Regions from separate parts of the Homo sapiens genome. Here region 2 is linked to region 1. The links come from fine-mapping of genetic effects on gene expression. Tissue or cell type: monocytes after LPS. Region 1 holds a variant in brackets; the other region holds the start of a gene. All regions are shown on one strand. Distances are from middle to middle.

Region 1 (8,166 bases):
CCTGTAATCCCAGAACTTTGGGAGGCCGAGGCGGGTGGATCACAAGGTCAGGAGATCGAGACCATCCTGACTACCACGGTGAAACCCCATCTCTACTAAAAAAATACAAAAAAAACTAGCCAGGCATGGTGGCGGGCGCCTGTAGTCCCCGCTACTCGGGAGGCTGAGGCAGGAGAATGGCTTGAACCCGGGAGGCAGAGCTTGCAGTGAGCCAAGATCCACTGCACTCCAGCCTGGGCGACAGAGTGAGACTCCGTCAAAAAAAAAAAAAAAAAAAAAAAAAAACTCTCAGAAACGTGAATTTAAGGTCAGCACAACAATCCAGTACAACAAGGTGCCAGACTATATCTGCTTGACTTAAACACTCCCTACTGTTGGACATGCAGGCTGTGTATTTATTTATTTGGCGATTCTAAATAATCCCCTGTGAAGGGTTTGATCCATCAGTGCTGCCTGCATTTCAGATGGCTTCCCCAGCAGAACTTCCTTGAAAGGGATTCACTGGGTCAAAGGGCATGAAAGTTTAAAAGTCTTGATACATATGGACAAAATACTTTCCAAAAATATGCCGGCTGACGGTCCCACCTAGGGTGGGAGGGAGATGACAGCCTGCTCAGCTCAACTCACATAAAACCCTGCTTAGCCCAATTCCTGACATCTGAGATTAAACGAGGTGGCCCAAGCCCCCCAGCAGGGAAGAAGGGCCCAACTCTGTCCAAACTCCACATTGGTCAACCTGCGGAGTGCCATGTCCCACGTCACACTCCAGGTAGAAGATGTGGCACCTCAGGCCAAGCACGACCTGGGCAGAGCTGCCCTCCCGCTCTTGGAGCCAGGATTGTTCTTCAGCCCTCACTTTCTTTCATACCTCATGTCCAGGATGTCTGCAAGTACATTTGGGGCTACCTTCAAAACATCCCCAGCTGGGCATGGTGGTGCACACCTGTAGTCCCAGCTACTCAGGAGGCTGAGGAGGGAGGATCGCTTGAACCCAGGAGTTCAAGGCTGCAGTGAGCTATGATCATGCACTGCCCTCCAACCTGGGCAACGGAGTGAGACTTCACCTGTAAAAAATGAATTAATTTAAAAAACTCCACATCCTGAATGTGACCACAGCTCCTCTCTCCACCACTACCCTGGCCCACCTCTCACCTGGTTATCTCAGTAGCCCCCTCTTTGACTCTCTGCCTCCCCGGGCGTGAGCCACCGCGCCCGGCCGTTTCTGAGAGTTTTAACATCAAAGGACAACGCTTATGCTACGATGTCAAGTGGATACCACGGTATGCACGAAGCAGACACATAGACAAGAAAAAGACCCCCTTAGAGTCTGTTCTCCATAGCAGCCAGAGAGATCCTTTCAAAACCTAGGTTACATCAGCTCAGCCCTGAGCTCACAACCCTCCAGTGGCTCGTTCACGTGGGGTAAAAGCAAAGCCCTCACTATGACCCGCAAAGCCTTTAGGACCTGTGCCTCCCGCACTCCCATCACCTCCCTCACCTAACATCCTGCCACTCCCCTGCACCCTCTCAGCTCCCTGATGCTCCTCAGAACACCTCCAAGTGCATTCCTGCCTCAGGGCCTTTGCACTTGCCGTTACTCCTGCCTGGCATATTTCCTCAGGTACCCACAGGGCTCCTCTCCTCAACTGTCATCTCAAAACAATCATAAGCAAACAGGATCTGCTTTGGGAAGGCCCTCCCTGATCAGCCCATCTGAAGAAGCGCCCTGGCCCCTCTCTCTTCCCTCACCCTGCGTCGTGCTCCCTTACTCTGCGATTATTCTCTGCCCTCTCTAGTAGTAGAAAGCCTCCACAGGACTGCACTCTGTCTGTCTCGTTCACTGCTGCAACCCTGGCACCTGTGTGCCGCCTGGCTCCCAGTTGGTGTTCCACTGTACATCTGCTGAATGTTGACTTGAATGGGAGATTGCACTGTCTGGGTATGTGCGTGTGGCTTCCCCTGCCTGGGTGATACCTTACTGTCTCTAAGGTCCCCAGCTCGCAGATACTGCCTGGCATTTAGTAAGTAGCCAGGTTGGATTCGCTGTACAAATGGACACATGAAGACAGGAAGGAACTCACAGCAGGGCAGGAGAGACCACTGCATGGGGGTCAGGAAACTGGAATTCCAGATAAACCCCTGCCACTCACCATCATTAGGCCTTGGGCAAGTCACTTCACCTCTTTGAACCTTAGTTTTTCACCCATAACATGGGCATGGTGACCCCTGTGCTGTTGGCCTCACAGGGCTGTTGTGAGGATTACATGACAAAGACAAAGCAAGGCACAGGGACAGCCCTGCTCAAGCTGCAGCTCTCCCATGAGGCTCCACCTGACACCTCACCTTGCCAGGCCAACCAATCCTTTCTCTGAGCCCCCGAGGAGCCCCTCCAGCGCCTCATAGATTGTGTGTGTGTGTGTGTGTGTGTGTGTGTGTGTGTGTGTGTGTGTGTGTGTGTCAGGGCCCTGCTGGTGCTTTTATGGAAGCTATATTTTTATGACTACCCTCCCCAAACTGTGCACCCCTTGAGATGGGGCCCTGCCCCACCATCTTTGCGTCCGTTGGTCTTACCCTGTGCCTGGCAGCTAGGAGTGCTCCTGGGACATCTGATGACTGGCCAAGTACATTTGTTGAAAGCTATGGATGTATGAGTATGATGTGAGTAACTACAGGTGGCGACTTTAGGCCTGCATAGATGGCTGGGGTGAGGCAATTCAGCAAGGGGCTATTTGGGTTCTGGGGCAGGAGGGCCAGGTGGGGCCTCAAGTGCCCCCCGGCCCCCCCGCCGAGAGGAAGGGAGGGGGGTGGTGCTGGACTGGCCAAGTTCACTGTAGGCCAAGGGCTGGACAGCTTCCTCCCCAGACATGGGCCACATCGGCCACATCTTCTGAGCTGCGGGGTGGAGGCCTGGCTGCCCACCTGCATTCCTTACTCTGCGTACCCATGATCTCATCCCGGCCCTCAGCCACCCACAGGGCAGGAGGCTTTGCCCCATTGTGCAGATGAGACAGCCATGCCCTGCCCTGGGATGGTCATTTGGCCTGGGCTCAGGGCACTCTAGTGGGCCCCAGGCTCCGGCGGGGTGAGTGGAATGTGGTCACGGAGGCCACCCCACGCTGTCTTGTTGGGTTTAATGAGCCCCATTGGTCTGTCCATACCCTGAATAAGCTCTGGTCTACCGACCCTCCTATGGGCTGCTGGGGCGGGGGAGGTCCCAGGGTTTTCCAGATTCAGCTGTCCTCCCTCTGCAGTCTCAGGGACCCAGACAGGGCTGGCTGACAAACAGGTCCTGCCCGGGATGGGCGTGGGGCTGAGCGAGCGAAACTCCTTTTAGGAAGGAAATCTCGGCCAGGTTGAGAAACCAGCATCTTGCCAAGGCCTAGGGGGTGGGGGAGCCCAGGTGAGCCGACTCAGTCCTCAGGAATGGGTGGGGTCTCCAGGAGAGGCGGGCACTTCCTCCGCCCCAGCCCAGGGTCCTGTTCAATCCTTATTGAGGAGTTTCCTGGCGACAGGCAGTGACCTGTCGGCTGCCTGTGTGGGAAGCCGCTTGGCGTGGCCCTCCCCATCTCATTAGTGGTGATTCACCTGGACTCACCTGGCTGTCAGGGACCTGTCCCACTGCCCGCTGGAACCAGCTCAGCAGGCACCCTCTGAGGGGCAGAGACCTCGTTCCCTCAGCTCCCCGTCCTCCATGGTGTCCAGGGCAGAGTGTACCAGGCACACAGTCAGAGCTCACAATTCATTCATTTGACTAACAAATATTTACTGAGCACCTACTGTATGCCAGACACTGGGCGAGGTGCTGGGGCTACAGAGTGAACCAGGCAGACCCAAATCCCTGCCCTCTTGGAACTCACATTCTTGTGGGAAAAGTCAGACAGTAAACAAATAAATAAGTGAATCACATAAGCTGCAGAAGATGGTGAGTG[C/T]TGTGGAGAAAAATAAAGGCAGGAAGAGTGTGAGATGGGGGCCATGCCTTTAAATAGGGTGTTCAGGGTGGGCCTTTCTGAGAATGTGGTATTTGAGCAAAATCTGATGAAGGTGGAGGTAAAGAAGGGAGCTGTGCAAATAAGGGAGAAATAAACTATACCAGGAAACAGCGAGTGCAAAGGCCCTGGGGTGGGAGTGGGAGTCAGGGTGGTTTCAGGAATAGCCAGGAGACACGTAGCTGAAGCAAGCTGGCAACAGGGCAGATAGCGGAAGACGGGGTCAGAGAGGTGGAGGTGGTGCAGACTTGTGGGGTCTTATAGGCCTTTGTAGGAACTTTGGCTTTTTCTCAGTTGATTTCTGTCAAAATGCTCCCAAATCCCCCAGTTGAACCTGAGACCAGCGCCTCAGTCTTCTTCCGCCCGGCTTGGAGCTTGCAGAGATAACTCAAGGGTCAGGGGTGTTTTCACTGGGAGGCTACCTTCTAGCAGGGTCTGGGTGGATAAGTTTGCTGGGCAGGGGTGAGGTGCCCGTGGAGCACATGTGAAGAGGAGGAAGACTGTTCAGGACACAAGTACTTGCTGCAGGGGGATTTGGTGGGAAGAGGAGCAGAAAGGAGCTAAGCTGAAAGAGAAAGGTGAGGCCCGTTCTGTAGGAGCCAGCCTCACGCAACTGTCCTTCCAGCCTCAGCTGGGATTGTGCCCCAGCTGACAGTCCATGCTCCAACATCTCTCTTTAGTCTGGGTCTTTGCACTGCTCTTCCTTCTGCCTGGAAATCCTCACTGTCCTTTGCCTGGTAAATTCCCATGCATCCTGGCGGTCTTGGCTTAGATATTACGAAGTGGTCCCTTAGGTCCCAGAGCAAGGGCTCCTCCCATGGGCCCAGCACGCCCCCCACTGAAGCATGTTTCACATCGTATCATAACTGCCCACCGTGGGGTCTTGCTTCTCTGTGAGACCATGGCCTCCACAAGGGCTTGGACCATGTTGGGGTTTGCCTAGAACAGAGGCTGCCACAGGTGCGAGCAAACACGCACTAGGATTTGGATCCCTCAGATGCTTCCAAGCAGAGTAACAAGATCAGACTCACATTTTAGAAAGATGACTCTGACTCCAGTGTCTATGTTGGGGAGTGGGCGGGGCTGGAGATGGGCAACAGCTTAGAGGCTATTGCAATAGTCCAAGCAGATGCAAGGAAGGATAGAACCAGCGAGTCAGCTGCTGGGAGCAAGAAGAGGAGCACGATCTGGGAGAGTTTTTGGAAGAGACATCAACAGGACCTGGTGACCACTGGCCCTGGGGATAGTGAGAAGGGAGTGGAGGGTGGGTCCAGCTTTCCCTCTGTTATTTTGTGTCCTTCCTCCTGTCTTGCCGGTGAACAGATCCGACTTCCTAAGGCACAATATAGTGCAGCGGTTATGAGCACAGGCTTTGGAGCCCAACTCTGGGTTCGGCTCTCCTCTCCACTACATACTTGCTGGGTAAGATTGGGACAGATTTACTCAACCTCTCTGTCCCTCAGTTTACCCGTCTGTAAGGCAAGGATGGTAACTGAGATTTAATTACTGCATTTCATGGATTCTAAGATGATTAAAATTGATCTCCATTTTAACATTTCTGAAATCAGGGTGAGTCTGAAAATCAATGGCATATCAAGGATTAATTGGCAGCATCGTTTAGTGGTACACAAATAACGTGATGTCTAATGATTGATGGAACTGTAGATTTGATGAAACACAAAAATACACGGAGAGACCAGTACCTGGCATGTCGTAAGGGGTGAATAAACATTAGCTGTTATTATTATTGTCATAATTTGTTTTCTGGAGAATTGTTTGCATACAAGGTAACAAATGCCCAATCAGATTAAGAGACAAATATAATTAGGAGCTAAAAGAGAAAAGAAAGCCGGGTGCGGTGGCTCACGCCTATAATCCCAGCACTTTGGGAAGCCAAGGTGGGTTGATCACTTGAGGCCAGGAGTTTGAGACCAGCCTGGGCAACATGGTGAAACCGTGTCTCTACCAAAAATAAAAAAAAATAGCCAGTCTCATAACCTGGTCTCAAAATAAATAAATAAATTAATTAATTAATTAATTAAAAATTTTAAAAAGAGAGAGAAAAGAAGCTAATTCATAAATAGATACAAAGCCTTAAAACTTTTAGTAATCTCCCCCCCAAAAATTCCCAAAGCCGAATGCTTCCCCTGAAAGGTCCTACAGAATTCTGCCAAAGTTCCAGAGAAAACTTTAGAAATTCCTCCTTTACAAAGGGGACCAGAACTTCTGGCTCCCTGACCGGCAGGGGGAACCAGGGCATGTCCCTGGATGACTTTGGGGGTGTTCCCTGTGTCCTTGTGAATTTCCCTGAGTCACCATTACTCACTGCCCACAATCAGGGCTCTGCTACCTTCCAACCAGGAGAGCAACAACACCCGGGGATCAAGGGCCATCCTCAAACAAAAGTGTGATTATAACGCGTTCTGCACGGGCTATAAACCGTCCCCAGCTCCGGAGAGCAGGGTGACCCTCACCAGCGTCTTATTTCTGGCCTCCTGGGTTGTGTTCCTGCCTACTGACTTGGCAAATCCTAGGCGACTCGCCTTGTTTTCTCTCCTCACTTAAATACATGTCTGGAAAAAGCCTCCACCCCCACAGACCCTGCTGTGTGCGGAGAGGGTGGCATGCCTGGAGGAGGAGGAGAGACAGGGCGGGCTGACTCGCAGAGCCTCCTGCTCCCTGTGGAGAAGACTTGGCCCAGGAAGGCGCCCCCAGGCCCAGCTACTGGGGGAAGCAACACTTCCCGGCTCCTGTGCTCCTTCAGGCTCAGCCAGGACCCTCAGCACAGCTCTTATTCTCTCCTGCTGTTGTCTGCATTGCCAGGGGACTGTCTTGGCTACCCCCACCCTGTCAGGCTCACACACCAGGGCCTGGTGACAGGGGCAGCCTCGACCTCCCAGACTCAAGTGACCCTCCCACCTCAGCCTCTCAAGTAGCCGGGACCACAAGTGCACATGGCCACGCCCGGTAAATTTTTGTATTTTTTGTAGAGAAGGGGTTTCACCATGTGGGCCAAGCTGATCTCAAACTTCTGGGCTCAAACATTCCTCCTGCCTTGGCCTCCCCAAGTGCTGGGATTATAGGCGGGCATCTCCATTTCCTTTTCACAGCTGAGGAAACTAGGCCCAGTGATAGAAACTGATTTACAAGAATCGGAGTGCTCCCTCTCATTGACAGAAAGGAAATGGGCTTTCAACGTGAGTGCTCCATTTCCTCAAATTGAGCATAAGTTCCTTGGCAACAAGCCATACTCATCTTACATTTCTTGACTTGCTGGAAGCATTAAGCACAATGCTGGGCACATGCAGTTAGTGGGTATCAAACACTTAAGAACTAGTTGATTTGAAGTAAATAAATAGGCCAGGCAAGGTGGCTCACGCCTGTAATCCCAGCACTTTGGGAGGCCAAGGCAGGCAGACCTCCTGAGGTCAGGAGTTCAAGACCAGCCTAGCCAACATGGTGAAATCCTGTCTCTACTAAAAATACAAAAAATTAGCCGGGCGAGTTGGCAGGTGCCTGTAGTCCCAGCTACTTGGGAGAATTGCTTGAACCTGAGAGTCGGAGGTTGCAGTGAGCCGAGATCACGCCATTGCACTCCAGCCTCGGCAACAAGAGCGAAACTCTGTCTCAAATAAATAAATAAATAAATAAATATTAATTTAAAATAAATAAATAAAACAACTTTTCAAATAACCATGATGAATTTTCACAGAAAATATCATTTAAGCACTTTCAGCTCATAAAGCATTTTCACATACATTAGCCTATGTGCTCCTGATGGAGTAACTGGATAAAAGAGATCATTATCGGCCGGGTGCAGTGGCTCACACCTGTAATCCTAGCACTTTGGGAGGCCGAGGCGGGCGGATTACCTGAGATTGGGAGTTTGAAACCAGCCTGACCAACATGGAGAGACCCCTTCTCTACTAAAAATAAAAAAATAGCCAGGTGTGGTGGCACGTGCCTGTAATCCCAGCTACTCAGGAGGCTGAGGCAGGAGAACCGCTTGAACCCGGGAGGCAGAGTCTGCAGTGAGCCAGTTAGACTGCAGCCTGGGCAACAAGAATGAAACTCCATCTCAAAAAAAAAAAAGATCATTATCATATCTATTTCACAGATGAGGAAGCGCAGCACAGGGGATGTGTTTAAGGTCATGCAGCTGGGATTACAATTCCTGTAG
Region 2 (8,166 bases), 110 kb after region 1:
AGGCGTGAGCCACCATGCCTGGTCTTTTTAAATTTAGAATGTTTCCTGTCTGGCCAGGCGCGGTGGCTCATGCCTGTAATCCCAGCACTTTGGGAGGCTGAGGCCGCCGGATCACTTGAGGTCAGGAGTTTGAGACCAGCCTGGCCAACCTGATGAAACCCGTCTCTACTAAAAATACAAAAATTAGTCGGGTGTTGTGGCGGACGCCTGTAATCCCAGCTACTTGGGAGGCTGAGGCAGGAGAATCGCTTGAACCCGGGAAGGGGAGGCTGCAGTGACCCGAGATCATGCCACTGCACTCCAGCCTGGGCGAGAGTGGGACTCTGTCTCAAAAACAAATAAACTAAATAAAATAAATAAAAAACTGAGTAAATTTTTTTTAGGAGATAAATGAGTGATGCAGATTCAATACGTCTCTACCTGATTAATTATAAATAGCGTATAGAGTCTTAGTTATACAATCCTAGTTATATAAATGCATTGACTAGACTTACAGACACTTTAAAAAATTGTGTACCGATATCACTTTCAAACTTTCTTCTAAACTTGTTTTTTAAAAAAATTTCGTGACTACAGAACTTGCTGAAGTCATTGTTTTTTTGTTTTTTTTTTTTGCATAAGCATATAGTCCCTGGATGAAGTCATTCCTTTGACAATGACTTGATTAAACCCATATCAGGCAGAATATGAAAACCACCTAAGGATTAATTTGGATATTGTTCAAATTAATATTAATAAATGCTCCTCTTCCCAGAGAACTGTTAGCATAATTGTGGCCTTTTATCCTTCCAAAAGCACTTGTCATTTAATTATTAGGGTGATTTTTCTGATTCTTTGTTAGATTCTTTGAGATAGCACAAATAGTGCTAATTTTATTAAGACTATATTTCGATAAATCAAAACATCAAGTTCCCTACTCTCGAGGAGTAACTTTTGACCCACAACACATCTGAATGTTTACTAATTATCTTTTAAAGCAGTTTTAAGTAAATCAAAGCTGTTTGCCAAGCAAGGTCCATGTTTTGTAACTTCCAGCTGTGAAGCCCCCACTATACAAAGTAGATATATTAAATGTTAATCACTTTAGCTCTAATTAAATATTTAGTCCTTCAAAGACCTAGAAAAAGTGAAAAAGGTTGAAGTTGATACATATTTTTTTTTCTAAAAGGCCTAAAAGATCTACTAGAAACAACTATTTTAAATCACATCTCTCCCCAAATGGTTAAAAATCGAACTATTAATCCAGTAGTTTACCTTTGGTACCTTCTAGGTGTAAGACCGTTTGGGCTGGGCGCGGTGGCTCACGCCTGTAATCCCAGCACTCTGGGAGGCCAAGGCAGGTGGATCACAAGGTCAGGAGATCGGGACCACCATGGCTAACACGGTGAAACCCCGTCTCTACTAAAAATATAAAAAATTAGCCAGGCGTGGTGGCAGGCGCCTGTAGTCCCAGCTACTCGGGAGGCTGAGGCAGGAGAATGGCGTGAACCTGGGAGGCAGAGCTTGCAGTGAGCCAAGATTGCGCCACTGTACTCCAGCCTGGGAGACAGAGCGAGACTCCGTCTCAAAAAAAAAAAAAAAAAAAAAAAGGCCGTTTTAAAAAACATCATCATCATAACCACGATCAACATTATTGCCATCATCATTGCTAATATTTATTAGAAGTTTACTCTGTACTGGGTTATATGCTTTACAAACAAGAGTTTTATTTGCTCCTTACAACAACCCTATGAGGTAGATGCTGTTATTATCTCCATTCTGTCTAAAGCTTAATAAGGTTAAGTAACTTGACCAATGCCTAACTAGTAGCTGCCAGATCCCGGAATTGAAACCAGGCTAACTTAGTTTAAAGCCCTTGCTCCCAACTTTTATGTTCCCGAAGCCCACTTAATTCATTTAAATTTGGTATAAATTGACTTTAATTATGGCCTTTTTGTTAGAATCCATTATAGTCTTCTCTTTTATCAACAAATGTTGGATAAAGTATGCATTCAGGGAGGCTGGGCATGGTGGCTCACACCTGTAATCCAAGGAGGCTGGGCATGGTGGTTCACACCTGTAATCCCAGCACTTTGGGAGGCCGAGGCAGGCGGATCATAAGGTCAGGAGTTCGAGACCAGCCTGGCCAACATGGTGAAACTCCGTCTCTACTAAAAATACAAAAATTAGCTGGGCATGGTGGCGGGCGCTTGTAATCCCAGCTACTTGGGAGGCTGAGGCAGGAGAACCAATTGTTTGAACCCGGGAGATGGAGGTTGCAGTGAGCCGAGATAGTGCCATTGCACTCTAGCCTGGGTAACAGGGCGAGATTCCGTCTCAAAAAAAAAAAAAAAAAGGGCATTCAAGGAATAGGAAGACAAAGTATAATGGAAAAGTAAATGAACAAAAAGGATTTAAAAAAACAAATCCCAACTGTCAGATTAGTGGACAGTGAACCAATGCTCTGAGTTTGTTCATCAATCTGTGGTAGAACTACAATTGTTTCCTAAAGAGTGGAAAGGCTTTGAATAAAAGTGGAGAGGTAGAGAGGGCTCTCCCAGGACAGGTTGATTGCTTCCGCAAAGGCAAAGGGTCTGTAAAGTGCTAGGCGAGTGGGAACAAGTGGGAATAGTTCTGTTTGACTACATTTGAGGGTTTGAGAAAGGAAAGGGAGGGTAGAAGGGATGGAAGTGGGAATCACATATGTTTAATGATGTCTTGTTCGGTGCCAAGGACAGTTTTAGACCCTGATAAGCGGAAAGCTTTGAATACTCAGGAGGTGAATTTGGGTCATTTCATCTCCTCTCTTAGCTGCTGTATGACCCTGTGCCATCCTATTTATGTTTCATTTTCCTATCTGCAAAAAGGGAGTAATTCTTGTTCCCTTGGGTTTTCTCCTAGTCATAAAAAATGAATGAGTTCGGCCACAGTACACAAACAAAAGGAAAATATGTAATATTTTGTAGGATAAATTCATAAAAGTTGTGGAGGATCTGGGCACTTTTATAAAGCAAGCACTGTAGAAAACTTTCAAAGGAAACATTTAAATTCACTAATGACAGCTATAGGGATCCTGATTTTTCCTTTAAATGGCAGGCACTTCAAAAAATTAAAATAGAATGTAGTTAGCTTTCAATTACTTAGGCCACTGACAATTCAATTTATGGATTATATAGTATTTTAATTTACTCATTTCACACGTCGTTATCAACTCTACATGAAGTTTAAAAGGACAAAGGATGCAAGTGGAATTGGTCAGTGTTCCGGGTTATTTCCAAGGGAGGCAGAGGGTGGGGGGTTTCCTTTGAGACAAGACTTGGGGTTGGCCAATAATTGCTGGTATTGCCTGCCTGGTAATAACAGGCTGATGAAAAGGTGACTACAACGTGAAAACTGGTTAAATCAAGCGCACCCTCCCACCCTCGTTTTAGATGAGGAATTTTCCGCCCTCACAGAAGGGGCTGAGGCAGCATCTGGCATCACAACACTAACATTTGCTTCGTGATTTCCTCTTTACCCGGCCCTTTGACACACATCCCTTCCCAGAAATCAGGATTCGCTGGTGCTTTTGCATTTCTAAAATGGGAATCCCGTGGCTGAGCTTTTAGCCGGCCGGAACGACTGAGGGCTGCATCCCTTTCCCGCAGGAGCGGGGCTCCCGCCTCCAGTTCTGTTCCAGGCCTGACTCCTCCACTCCCTCCGTGACTCATGTCCTGCGGATCCTTCGCCCCCGACGCGCCCCCCAACACACAAACCCCCAGAATCCGCCCCCAGCCTACAGCGCGACGTCAGCCCGCCCCAGCCGACTTGGAGGTCTCGGGTCTGAGTCACACAGAAAGACCACCCTCGTCGGCATCCCCACACACAGTCCGACACCCGGCGCGCCGGCCTCCCCGCCTGACACACTAACGCCCGTCGTCTCCGCGCAACTTGTTATGCTCCGGCTCGAGCCCTTGACCCAAAACCCTCAGCGAAACGGAGAGCCGCAGAGCCGGCCTCGGGCGGCCTTTGATGGCTTTGTTATTGTTTGGGTTTGAATCGATACGCCCCTCCCCATCCTTCCTCCCTCGCGGCCCTACACCCAGCTCCCGCCTCCCCTCACGCCCCGCGCCCCTCCCCCTCCATTTTGGCGCCTTTTCCTTCCCGCCACGTCGTGGCGGCGTAGAGACCATTCTGACCGCGAGAGCTGGGCGGGGCGGGGGCGGGGCGCGCCGAGTTATGCAGATCAATCGGCCTCTGGTTGGCTGGAGTAGCGCTGGCAGGGGCGGGGCCGGGGCGCGGCCACAGAGCGCGCGGGGCGGGGGCCGAGGGGAGTCGCCCAGTCCCGCCGCTTCCCCACCCCCTCTCCTCCCTCGGCCGGCCCGGCAGCCCTGCTCCCCGCCTTGGCCTCCCGGAGAGGCCCCGCCCCGTCCCCGCCCGCCGCGCCCTCCCCGCGCGCCCTCCCCGCCGGCGCGCTCCTCCCCTTTACTCCTGGCTGCGGGGCGAGCCGGGCGTCTGCTGCAGCGGCCGCGGTGGCTGAGGAGGCCCGAGAGGAGTCGGTGGCAGCGGCGGCGGCGGGACCGGCAGCAGCAGCAGCAGCAGCAGCAGCAGCAACCACTAGCCTCCTGCCCCGCGGCGCTGCCGCACGAGCCCCACGAGCCGCTCACCCCGCCGTTCTCAGCGCTGCCCGACCCCGCTGGCGCGCCCTCCCGCCGCCAGTCCCGGCAGCGCCCTCAGTTGTCCTCCGACTCGCCCTCGGCCTTCCGCGCCAGCCGCAGCCACAGCCGCAACGCCACCCGCAGCCACAGCCACAGCCACAGCCCCAGGCATAGCCTTCGGCACAGCCCCGGCTCCGGCTCCTGCGGCAGCTCCTCTGGGCACCGTCCCTGCGCCGACATCCTGGAGGTTGGGATGCTCTTGTCCAAAATCAACTCGCTTGCCCACCTGCGCGCCGCGCCCTGCAACGACCTGCACGCCACCAAGCTGGCGCCCGGTGAGAGCACCCCCCGCCTCCGGCCCGGGGATGCGGGGCGGCGGCGGGATCTCCTGGGTGGGGAGCTGGCGGCTCGCGGGCCGGCACTGAGTCCCCGTGCTTCCCCCTTTCCTAGGCAAGGAGAAGGAGCCCCTGGAGTCGCAGTACCAGGTGGGCCCGCTACTGGGCAGCGGCGGCTTCGGCTCGGTCTACTCAGGCATCCGCGTCTCCGACAACTTGCCGGTGAGTGGGCGCCCCGCGGTGGGGAGGGCGCGCCGGGCGGGGGGCGCACGGGCGTGCTTTAGCCCGGACGAGGGAACCTGACGGAGACCCTGGGCTTCCAGGTGGCCATCAAACACGTGGAGAAGGACCGGATTTCCGACTGGGGAGAGCTGGTGAGTGCCCTGCAGGAGCGACCCCCAGGATGAGTGGGTGGGGTGAGGGGCGCCCCCGACTCCCGCCCTAACGCGGCCCCCTCGCCCCTGCAGCCTAATGGCACTCGAGTGCCCATGGAAGTGGTCCTGCTGAAGAAGGTGAGCTCGGGTTTCTCCGGCGTCATTAGGCTCCTGGACTGGTTCGAGAGGCCCGACAGTTTCGTCCTGATCCTGGAGAGGCCCGAGCCGGTGCAAGATCTCTTCGACTTCATCACGGAAAGGGGAGCCCTGCAAGAGGAGCTGGCCCGCAGCTTCTTCTGGCAGGTGCTGGAGGCCGTGCGGCACTGCCACAACTGCGGGGTGCTCCACCGCGACATCAAGGACGAAAACATCCTTATCGACCTCAATCGCGGCGAGCTCAAGCTCATCGACTTCGGGTCGGGGGCGCTGCTCAAGGACACCGTCTACACGGACTTCGATGGTGAGCCAGGCCCGGGAGGGAGCTGCCCAGGTGACTCGGCCCGGCCCGGCCCAGTCCGGAGGCCTCGGCCAGTCTCCCGCGCCAGCCTTTTGTAAAGGTCATTGGGCCGCCTGGCTCGATGCTAGCCGGGGTGGGACGCAGGAGAGCCTCCCAGCGTAGTAAAGCCGGGGATTTTCAGCCAGCTGAACCTGTAATGTTTCTGGCATGATTTTATTCTTCAAGTGGAATTCAGTTAGTTCCAGGCTTTCCCGATGAATAAGAGGTTGTGGGCAACCGGCGGTAGCCCAGATTTTTCTAAAGTCTGACCCAGTTTCCCCGCCAGTAAAAGGATGGGGGCGGGGGAAGAGGTGGAAATTGATGCCGGTTTTGTAATTTTTGTTTTATTTTATAAGGGAGTTAGTTTTCTGTATGGTAGTTTTAGAGCTGCAGTTCTTAACTCCTTTCTGATCTAGGGAAGGTTAAGGAATAGGAACTATATTATTACTGGTGGCTTTTTTTTTTCTTTAGTGTTAAGGGGAGAGAGAGTCAGGAATGAATGTTGTGAAATAAGATCTGTCGCTGGTTTGAAAATTAGTTGGGTGTCTCCGCAGAGAGGATGAAAACCTATCCTAGGGAGGGGCTTGGAGCGGGTTCTTTCAGAAAAGAAGGAATGGAGAGCCTGAGATCAAAGCTGCGGAGGGTGGGTCATCATCTGAGCGGCTTAACCTAACAAACGACAGCCTTTCAAAACTTGTGACTCGGGCTTGTGGTTTATGTTTATTTGCCCTTGGAGGACGCTGGGTTGGGCTGCATTTTTTGTATTTAACAGTTAATGGCTGGCCGGGTCCTCCCATGTTTTTTCTTTCAAGTCTTTGCTGCCCCCTGGTGAGCACCAGCGGCATGGCCCCTCCTTTTTCTTTTACTACCCAAAGTTTGTAAACAGGAATCACGTGGTCTGAAACCAACCCTGCAGCTCTGTCTACCTTTCCAGTCTAGGGAGGAAAGGGTGTGGGTGTCTGCTCCTGCTTGCATCGGGTGGGGAGGAAGGCCTCCCAAAGGGCACCCTGACTTAGGATGTTGTGCAAGCATCCTTGCTTGGATCCTGTCGGCCATGAGAATCTCACCCGGGCTCCTGGGCAGTGGTGAATGCAATTTAAGGATAGTCTATGAGATACCTTTCTTGGTTGTGCAGACATGCATCCCTTCATCCTTCGCAGGCGGTCCTGCCTCACAGGGCCTCAAGTTTTGGGTCTGCGGCCAGCTGTGTTTGTTTCTTGGAGCAGTTCATAAAGAATTTCAGTTTATGGTTTGGGCTAGCAGAGAGGTGGGTAATGCTTTGGGTTGGAGAGATGCCGTAAGGTGCGCCTCCACTCTCCTTAGCCCAGAGGGAAAAATGGAGTTCACCTAGCTCCTGAGAGAAGGGATTTTTTTTTTTTTTAAAAGAAAGAGTTATATATACCACCCAGCTTCTTTGTGCTTGTTTTTGCTAAAAGTGTGTTTTCTCTTCTATTCCCTTGGCTCACAGGGACCCGAGTGTATAGCCCTCCAGAGTGGATCCGCTACCATCGCTACCATGGCAGGTCGGCGGCAGTCTGGTCCCTGGGGATCCTGCTGTATGATATGGTGTGTGGAGATATTCCTTTCGAGCATGACGAAGAGATCATCAGGGGCCAGGTTTTCTTCAGGCAGAGGGTCTCTTCAGGTAACTGATGGAAACCCCTGGCCATGGGGTTATTGGTCTTAATGGGGCTATTAGTCTTCATGGGACAGTCTTTGAAATTCTGGAGAGCTTCACTCTCCAGTAGATTCTGTCACCCTTGGCTTAGAATTGTAGGTGAGTGATTTACACTTGAGCTGGCCTCATAAATCACATGGTTTGCACTTGAGCTTTCCTTGGGAGGTCAGAGGAAGGCATGTGTGAGCATATTAAGAAGAAAAGACAATCTGGCTTCTCCAAAAACTTTTTTAAAGGTACCAACAGAAACCTGATAATTCCTGGCTGTTTTGCCAGGGAGTAAAAAGTTAAAAGCTCTTTTAGCATCTTCTTTAAGGCAGCAGCTCCAAATATTTTGGTACCAGTGACCTCACTGTGGGTGGTGTTCGTGTTTGTAAGTTGGTAGGTGAATTGAATCATTTCATCATGCTCAGTGGTGTCTCATCAAAATCTCTTGTCATCATCCTTCCTATTTCTGGTGAGTGGGTGTTGTGGGAAAGGCCCCCACTATTGAAGTTTGAAAACCACAGGTTTAAGAGGGGAGTCAGTTTTTAGCTGAAAGCAGACTGGAGGACCCAGATATTAGTCAATACCTTCCTATTGAAGGGTACCCAGCACAGTGTTCTAGAAAATGCTTGGCCTCCCTGGGACCCCAGACTTGTGGGCCTCTGAGAAGCAAATGGGGAAG

Which allele goes with the higher level. Alleles are on the strand shown, and positions count from the first base shown. SD is a standard deviation of normalised expression in the study named.
For the expression in monocytes after LPS of the gene that starts at base 4,446 in region 2, allele C in region 1 goes with a lower level than allele T (large effect, 1.3 SD a copy in Fairfax 2014).

Evidence for each region. PIP is the estimated chance that this variant, and not a neighbour inherited with it, causes the effect.
Region 2: PIM1 starts here. The variant in region 1 is fine-mapped to the expression of PIM1 in monocytes after LPS (Fairfax 2014, PIP 0.95).

The regions. Positions count from the first base shown.
Region 1 is chr6:37,053,176-37,061,341 of GRCh38, forward strand. No RefSeq gene overlaps it. Among named protein-coding and RNA genes, the nearest start is that of FGD2, 52 kb to the left of the region's middle. RefSeq lists enhancers at 3,120-4,006, 4,054-4,555, 4,556-5,055. The variant C/T (reference allele first, on the strand shown) is at 3,930.
Region 2 is chr6:37,165,707-37,173,872 of GRCh38, forward strand. It overlaps PIM1 (Pim-1 proto-oncogene, serine/threonine kinase), which reads left to right and starts at 4,446. Exons shown (of 6, transcript NM_002648.4): 1 at 4,446-4,951; 2 at 5,067-5,173; 3 at 5,275-5,325; 4 at 5,419-5,785; 5 at 7,290-7,466. The coding sequence starts at 4,870. RefSeq lists enhancers at 3,691-4,289, 6,211-6,804 and silencers at 3,915-4,694, 4,955-5,274, 6,464-6,563.